Regions from separate parts of the Homo sapiens genome. Here region 2 is linked to region 1. Evidence: fine-mapped expression QTL. Tissue or cell type: esophagus mucosa. Region 1 holds a variant in brackets; the other region holds the start of a gene. All regions are shown on one strand. Distances are from middle to middle.

Region 1 (4,400 bases):
TTCTCAGAGAGATAGATGAAGTTCCTTATAAATGGAAGCAGTTATACTTAGACCAGGATCTGGAAATAAGTTATTTACTATAATACTATATTAAATTTAGTTCTGAATTTTCTGGCAGCTGAGAAATATAGTATTTCTATTGTCTAATCAAAGGCAAGGTAGTACTTCCTTAAGGCTTTATTTGGGATTTTTTTTTTAATGCTAAAAAAATCAGCACTACTGCCATTTAATTTTTTTAAAAGAGCAAAAATTGACGCACAATCCACTACTTCAATAAATATAACTATTTTCTTTCTAGTCTTTACCAATGTGAAATTATTCAGTGGAACATTCCAAGATAAAATATTTTTGGTTTCCTGCTTTATTTCACTCAAGAAGATACAACTGTTAATCTCGTGCTACTGCAATGTTTGCGTGTTATTTTGAATGCCTGTGTAATACCAGTTGGATATACTTAGCCATTCCTTGAACATTAGGTGTTTAGTTGGTTTTCCATTTTTCATTACTACTCAGAATAAGCAATTAATATTGTAGCATTTTGCTTCTTTCAGGTAGTTTTTATTACATGAATTCCCTGGAATGAGAAGATTCCATGAAAAAGTATGAACATTGGCTGGGCAAGGTGGCTCATGCCTATAATCCCAGGACTTTGGGAGACTGAGGCGGGTGGATCACGAGGTCCAGAGATCAAGACCATCCTGGCCAACATGGTGAAACTCTGTCTCTACCAAAAATACAAAAAATTAGCTGGGCATGGTGGCAAGCACCTGTAGTCCCAGCTGCTCTGGAGGCTGAGGCAGAAGAATTGCATGAACCCAGGAGGCGGAGAATGCAGTGAGCCTAGATCGTGCCACTGCACTTCAGCCTGGTGACAGAGCGAGACTGTCTCAAAAAAAAAAAAAAAAAAAAAAAAACTGAACATCATTTACTTTTTCTAAGTTTTGACCCTTTGTTTTCCTATGAAATTGTGCTGCCTTTACTCTCTAAATGAAGATATAAATTTACTGGGAAATATTACAGAACAGCAAATCTTTTCAGTTCTAAAAGGCTCCCAATGAGTTTGTTGCAGGGGATGATTGATCTATGTGAAAGCAATGGAACATTTGATTTTGATCTGTTACTGGTATTAATGTACCTTTAGCATTTCACGGAATACAGCCTATGCAGGGATAGAAGAGCACTTACTATTGAATTGGGAATGAACTGGGCCAGAGGTCATGAGAAATAGAGTGGAATGTGTAGATGTGCAGCACGCTTCTCCTGTTGGGGAAGCTGAGGAAGTTCTGTTTATTGTTCTTCTAAGATGTTCCTGTGACTGGAACAGAGCTGGAATTACTCTGGATTGGGATAGCTGGGCTCAACTTTCCCACTATTTATGGCAGTGAGAATTTAAACGGAGCTGAGAGTTTCCTTCTTTCCTGGATCTCAAACAGCTTGGTCTCAGAGCGCAGAGCTTCCCCAAGTGTTTCCAGAGAAGACAGCCTGAGGGAGAGGAAGTGGTGCTAATTAAATCCTCCCTCTGTTTTCCAGGCACAGGAGCCTTTCGCAGATGTCTGTTGTTAGGCGTGTGTTCACAGAGTGCGCAAATACAGAAGCAGGCTTTCCTTCCCCAATGGCACAAACCTTCCTTCACAGGTTATAGAGAACTTTAGAAATGCATTTCCTTCCAACACCCACTGTGATAAAGGTGGCAGACCTGCATAAATACAGCATGTAGCTGCCAGGGACAGGAAGGTCAGAGTGCCTCCTCTGTCTGTCTTTCTTTCTCTGTCTCTGTCTCTATGTCTCTCTCTCTCTCTCACACACACACACACACACACACACACACATACACTCTTTCTCCTGCTTCTTCATTCCTTGTTTTCTCAGAGACCAATTTCTACCTTTTGCACACCTAACTTTAAAAGATCACCTAAAAGCTCAGAGACATCTTTTCTGTCAT[A/G]AGGCAGATGTTGGGTGTGCTATACTGGGGGCATGGTTGGGAGGACACTTGCTGCTACGACTATTCAAGTGTGACCCTGGGTGGTTCCCATCTACTCTGTGTTCCTCAGAAAGATGGGGAAAGACTAAGTAGCTCTTCTAGGATTGCTGGAAAGATCGGATAAGAAAACATATAAAGCTTAAGAAATCATATAAAGCAAACTGCATAAGGCTTTCCACTTGTGAGTTACCTTAGCTGTGTTTTCTACATTCAAATCCTCAGGGTGAACATATATATAGAGCCACATTTGCCTGAGACTGTCCAGTTCACTCCTATCATCCTGACATAATTGTCAATAGCACCCTTTTCATGCCAAAATATCCCAAAATTAGCTAATAAATTATATGATCATACTATTTTTACCTCTTGTGAATAGCCTAGTTAATCCCAATTTCAAAAGCGGAAGCTTGCTGGGGATAGGGGCTTCTTCTCACCTTCTTTTGTTTCACAAGAACCAAGGAAATTGATTAAAAACCACTTTTGTTTAAGAACAAGGAGGTGACTCCGAGAATAATATGGCATTCCTACTTTCATGGTGAAAATGGACATGAAACTTTCTAGGTAGCATTGATAACATGCTCACTGTCAGCTTGAAAGGATTTGAGTGCACAGGCTAAGCTAACATGTGTCTTCTATTTTATTTTGCTTTGCTTTATATGTACAAAATAGAAACCAAGATATTATTTTTATTTATTTTTAAACCATGTGTGATCATTACTAGCACCCACAGACATGCAAACAAAAATAAAAATCACCTCTAACACTGTCATCTAGAGATAACTATTGTTATATTTTATTTTACTTCTTTTCAGGCCCTCTTTTTAGACATTTTTAAATCTGTTATACCATACATGTGTGCCTGTATATACATATGCAGGTACATTTCCTTCCTTCCTTCCTTCCTTCCTTCCTTCCTTTCTTCTGTCTTTCTTTCTTTTTTCTTTCTTTCTTTTTCTTTCTTTCTTTCTTTCCTTCTTTCTTTCTTCTCTTTTTTCCTTCTTCCTTTCCTTTCCTTCTTTATCTTTCTTCTCTTTCTTTCTAAATTATTTTAACAAATTGGAATAATATTATTTATAATATTTTTTAACTTACTTTTTTCCATTTATAATATATTTTGGATATTTTTCTGTGATAAAATATACACTCACACTTTCAGTGATAACATTGTATTTACAGTGCAACATATTTTATTTAGTCAACTTCTTACTGATGGATACTTATTTTATTTTATTTTTTGGTGTTAGACTCAATGTTGCATGAATGTCTAATGTTTTTACATACAGTGTTGTATGAGATATAAAGTGGTGTGTTTTTCTTTTATATATAACCTGGTATATTTTTCTATTAGATGCGGTGTTGTGATGAACAAACTTTTTTTTTTTTTTTTTTGAGACAGGGTCTTGCTCTGTTGCCTAGCCTGGAGTGCAGTGGCATGATCTTGACTCACTGCAACTTCCACTTCCTGTGCTCAGGTGAACCTCCCACCTCAGCCTACCGAGTAGCTGAGACTATGGGCACATTCCGCCATGTCTGGCTAATTTTTGTATTTTTTGTAGAGACTGGGTTTCGCCATGTTGCCCAGGCTGGTCTCAAACTCCTGAGCACAAGGGATCTACCAGCCTCAGACTCCTAGAATGCTGGGATTACAGGCATGAGTCACCATGCCCAGCTGAACAACCGTGTGTGTGTGTGTGTGTGTGCACGCGTGTATGCATGTGCGTGTGTGTGAGTCTTTGGGTATTCGTCTAATTATTTTCTTAGAATAAATTTTTAGAATTCGAATCTTTCAGTTAAAAACATGTTCAGTTCTAAGTGCTCTTATGCTCTATTATGACTCAAGAAGCACACAAGAAAATGCATTATCATTGCTTTTAACTCTTAAATAAGCTTGCAGTCTGGTGAATTTTCAACCAAAAATGCTATGCAATTTTGAAGAGAAATTGTCTGGTAATTATTTTATATAGCTCTTCTCTTGTTCAGGTTCCTGTCTCCTGGGATTAAACTCCTTTTCTCTGTCCGGAGAGTCTCTCCTTCACTTCTCTGGTAAATGACCTTGCAGGATTGTGGATGGTATTTAGAAGTCTGTGTTATGAAGCTGTATCCACCAATGCCTCTGTTTAGTTAACATGAAGGATGTTTTTAAGTTTCAGGAATTCCGTTTGCTCATCATATTCTGTTTTGCCATAGCTAGGACACAGGTACAGAGGTAACATTTTTTCAATGAGATTTTTCTGCCCTTGGTTTAGGCTGAAGAAATGTCAACAATTGGGAGTTTTGAAGGATTCCAGGCTGTGTCTCTGAAGCAAGAGGGAGATGACCAACCCTCTGAGACTGACCACCTATCGATGGAGGAAGAGGACCCGATGCCAAGACAGATTTCAAGGCAGTCAAGTGTGACCGAATCAACTCTTTACCCCAA
Region 2 (4,400 bases), 33 kb before region 1:
AGTGTTCAGTGGCCGCTGGAAACCTAACGATAATTAGATGGATGCCGTGTGAACAATTGATGTCTTTTCACAGAGTTTCTTGCCCTTTAAAATAGCATACTTCAAACAGCAGTGCATTGCTTAGTCCTTCTCTTAAGAGACCAGGCTGGGATCCAGCATGTCTCCACTCCTCCTGCCTTTTGTGCCCCCACCCTGAGCTGTCATAAAGACATTTGGAGCTGAGTGGGAACGGTATTTGCCTCGCAATTATTTCTAATTGCCCTGTAGTTTTGTGGCGTCTAAGTGGTGTGACCTAGATACCGGTTCTGTAAAACTCTCTTTTCAGCCTGGGGTCTGTATTAGGGAGGGGGCATAAATCAGTTTGATCAGGTAACTGTGGCTGAGTCCATCTCACCAATAACATTTATACCCAACTCTACCATCTGTGCTTGTTGAAATCCTGGCTCTTCTTAACAGCCCGGATCTAATGCCGCCTCCACCGCTGTGCAGCCTTCCTGGAGTTGCTCCCTCCTCTGGATTACCATAGTACTTGTTAGGATCCTGTCTGTGGTGCTCATCATCTTCTATATCGTGCAATGCTAATTCACTTACAAATTTTATCTTCTTGAGCTCCTTATGCCAGAGAATGTGTTTGGTTCCTTTTCATATCCTTGTCTATGTGGATAACTGAGAAAGCTCAAGGTAGTTGCTCAGTTAACTACTGTTGAGTTAGTATACATGACGTCCTCGACACGGTGGAAGCAGGTAAAAGGACTGTTTATTCATTGTGACCTCTCCTGAGTGGCGAGTTGCCAGTTTGCACTTCATTTCCTGTGGAATCGCTTCATGACCTCAGTATTCCTGGAACTTTAAACAACATTTTTTGAAGGGTGAATATTAGTTATTTTTCTTTTAAAAGAATGGAATTCAACCAATTTACTTTGTCAGCGCACACCCGTTCCTCCAGCCATCAAACAAATACAATCTGATTTGGCCAGAGTCTGCTGAATGAAGTAGAGAATTTAGGATAGAAGATTGAAATTCAATCATACACATAACAGCATTTTGTTTTCTGTGCTCTCCTTTCTTTCAGCAATCCACCTACTTGTGCAGTTCATACTTTATTTTATACCAACTCTGTATGTAGAACACACTTGCTTAGGTTTCAGAATGTGTTCATTAAGATTCTATTTCATTTTTTTAGCACCGTTGCTATGTCAAATCTTATCCTAGGTTTATTCTCATATGCTTCCTTTCAAGTTCTATCTGCATTTCTGAAGGAGAAATGATACTCTCAACTTACAGATGACCAAAATTAAAAAACCTCAGAAAGATAGATTATGACTTGCTATAGGCTGCAAAGCCATTAAATGACAGATCAGGATTCACTAAATAGATATTAATGGATCATCATTAATTCAATGTGTATTTATTTATTACCTACTATCTGCTGGGTGTTTTGAGGAGTATATGAGAGAATAAGATGTAGCATTGCCCTCAAGGGGCCCCCCATCTAGGGAGGGGGATACACACTTACATAGAGACAATATCATGTGGCACATTTCCTAATAGGAATACTGACCAGAGATTGTGTGTACATGTGTTTGTTTTCAGAGATACACTGCTCTACATGTCTTCTACATTTTTGACAAGAGTGGTAGTGATGCTTAAAATCACAAATATCCAATAAATCAAGCCATCATAAAGAATATTAATGATAGGAGTGTAGGCCTCAGGCTTAAGCTTAATTATAACTACTTGGAGGCATACAGAAGCCATGGAGGAATGGATGATAGGCTGCTCCTGCTCCCTCAGCTGGATGTGTATTAGAGGGAGTTGGCAGAAAAATGCAGGACTTCTTGAGGGAGAGGACAGGAGGTAAAGGTGTGTCATTGCAGAACAAGAAAGGCCCCACCCACAAACCCAATTCTCTGCCTCTGACGGGTTGAGTTCCACCCTGTAAACATCCTCAGTCCTTTCATTTGACTATTTGAGGGTGGCAGTGTAACTCTCAGCCTACTTGGTGAAGTGAGATTCAGACTGAGTGGGGTCACAGCACAGGGCACTGTCTTGCCTGGCTTTATCTGAGCCAATCACACCTCTCCTGGCCACTATCTGTGGTCTAGCCCCCTTTGTGCAGAAAGAGAAAGAAGAGCCTTGAGGACCAGCCTAGTCAGGTAAGATCAAGTGGCTTGTCACTGGTTCTGCAGAGATGGGTTATTTCTCTATGAACCAATTGCTTCTGTCCCCTAAGCCGAGTTTCTGGTCACCTCCCCCACTGACTTGCAGTTTGGTTTAGGTTTGTAGTTTTGCATTACCATGTGAAATTTCCCTATTCTTCCTTACTGTCCAGGGTTGATGAGGCTTGTAGGCTAGCATTTTTTAGCCTATAAAGCCACTTGACATACTTATCTATATATTGATTTTGATCTTAACTGCCCTATAGTGCAGTAGGATGGGTATAATTTTCTCCATTTGGTGGCTTAGTGAACTGAAGCTTGGTCAATTGAAGTGATTTGTTCCAATTGGATCAGCAGGTTAAGGCCAAGATTAGATTTGATTCCTTCTTCCCTCTTCCTCTATTATAGAACCCAGCAGGTCATACCTTATCCCCAAAAGCCAAAAGAAGTGAAAAGCCTTTCTGAACCGTTAAATGGCAAACAAAAGGTGATTATTTCTTTGCAGGCAGTTTGAGAGGGTTATTTTTGAATTCATCTGAGGGAAATTTCATAATAATATATAGGTCCCATCAAACAGGGCTGTTTTTAGAGAACAAACGAGGGCATGTATGTAAAGGGGAGTTGTAAACTGAAAGGTGATAGGCAAATGAGACAGCGATGACTACTTGGCGCCTGAGACATCCTCCAGATCTCTGTATAAGCAGGTTTTAATTCGGGGCTAAATGACACTCTCCAAATGTCAGAGGCAGCGTAGTGAGGCACAGATCATACAGGCCCTGGGGAAATATTTTAGCTTTTCAGTCACACTGTGGTATGTAGAAAAGCAAATCTCAATGGGGGAAAAACACCCCCAAATCCTTTCAAATACACTCATGCAATTTCCTCTCTTGTGACAGCTATCATAGTATCTCATTGTTCTACAGTTTTAAGGAAATCTCATCTTCAGTTATTATGTAGTTTACTTTTTAAGATGCTAATTTTAGCTATCATTTTTCTTTTCATGCTCAAAAGGTTATATCATTCTTAGTTGTGGAAGGAAATGTTTCCTCTGTGTGTGTGTGCATGTGTGTATGTGTGTGTGTGTCTGTTTGAGTTTATTATGACAGTACTGATAGTCATCCCTTGGGGCCACCACAAATGCATTGGGTTGTAATGCTATATAATCTTTGGCAGACTTCTATATATTCTTTTTCTTTCTTTTCTTCTTCTTTTTTTTTTTTTTTGAGACAGAGCCTTGCTCTGTTGCCCAGGCTGGAGGGTAGTGGCGCGATCTCGGCTCACTGCAGCCTCCACCTCCCGGGTTCAAGCGATTCTCCTGCCTCAGCCTCCTGAGTAGCTGGGATTACAGGCATGCACCACCACACCTGGCTAGTTTTTGTATTTTTAGTAGAGACGGGGTTTCACCATGTTGGTCAGGCTGGAACTTCTATATATTCTTGGTGTCTTTCTGGCTGTAAGGATCCTGAAGAAATCGTTTAATTGATTACTTTATTCAAAACAGAGAAACTGAGGCCCAGAAAGATGAAGTGATATGCACAAGTCACACAGCCAGTATCATTGGAGCTGCAAGTCACATATGGGTCTCTTACTCTTTCATTGCCCACAATATGTAGTGAATGGTGCTAGGAGTCCCAAGCAGAAGCATTAGCCATGTCATTTTGGAGACTGTAACTAGATGTCCTTTAAGATTTCTTCCAATTAAGAGTTTTAGGGCACTTTGACCTTTGCTTAGCATCTACTGGAGATGGTATCATGCCCTTTAGAGCAGGGAAATCTGTCAGAGAAGCCTCTCTCTTTATTGACTTGGTTCTTCTGGAATATTTGCTTCGGCCAAATGTTGGAGCTGCTCCTTAGGTATAAGATGGGGAGATGGGCAAGAGGTGGTGGCATCTTCATTTTCTTCAGCCTGTCTGGATTTTTATATTTTCTGGGATCTTCCTAAATAAGTGCCACTCAGTTTGATCCTTTTAAAACTTGAAGTGATAGTTGATATTTTACTCAACATTGTTTAATCTAATGGCAGCGTCAAGTCCGAGAATTCATTTACTCCAGAGCTTGCAGAGCAGCAGCCACAGGTGAATCCAGCATGCAGATGTGCTTTGTTTGTGCTGCCATGTTAAACAAGATAAAACTAGTTCCAAAGTATTTGATATCTAGGAAATTTCCTGTAAAAAATCCAGATATCTTGTTTTCAGGAAGATCAGGAGATCTGATAATAATGGACCCACATCCCCTCATGGA

Evidence for each region. PIP is the estimated chance that this variant, and not a neighbour inherited with it, causes the effect.
Region 2: it holds the start of TPRG1, and the variant in region 1 is the best candidate, but not a certain one, in a credible set for the expression of TPRG1 in esophagus mucosa (GTEx, PIP 0.64).

Annotation. Positions count from the first base shown.
Region 1 is chr3:189,203,149-189,207,548 of GRCh38, forward strand. TPRG1 (tumor protein p63 regulated 1) reads left to right here. Exons shown (of 6, transcript NM_198485.4): 2 at 4,228-4,400. The coding sequence starts at 4,237. Among named protein-coding and RNA genes, the nearest start is that of TPRG1, 33 kb to the left of the region's middle. The variant A/G (reference allele first, on the strand shown) is at 1,943.
Region 2 is chr3:189,169,976-189,174,375 of GRCh38, forward strand. TPRG1 (tumor protein p63 regulated 1) reads left to right here and starts at 1,996. Exons shown (of 6, transcript NM_198485.4): 1 at 1,996-2,156.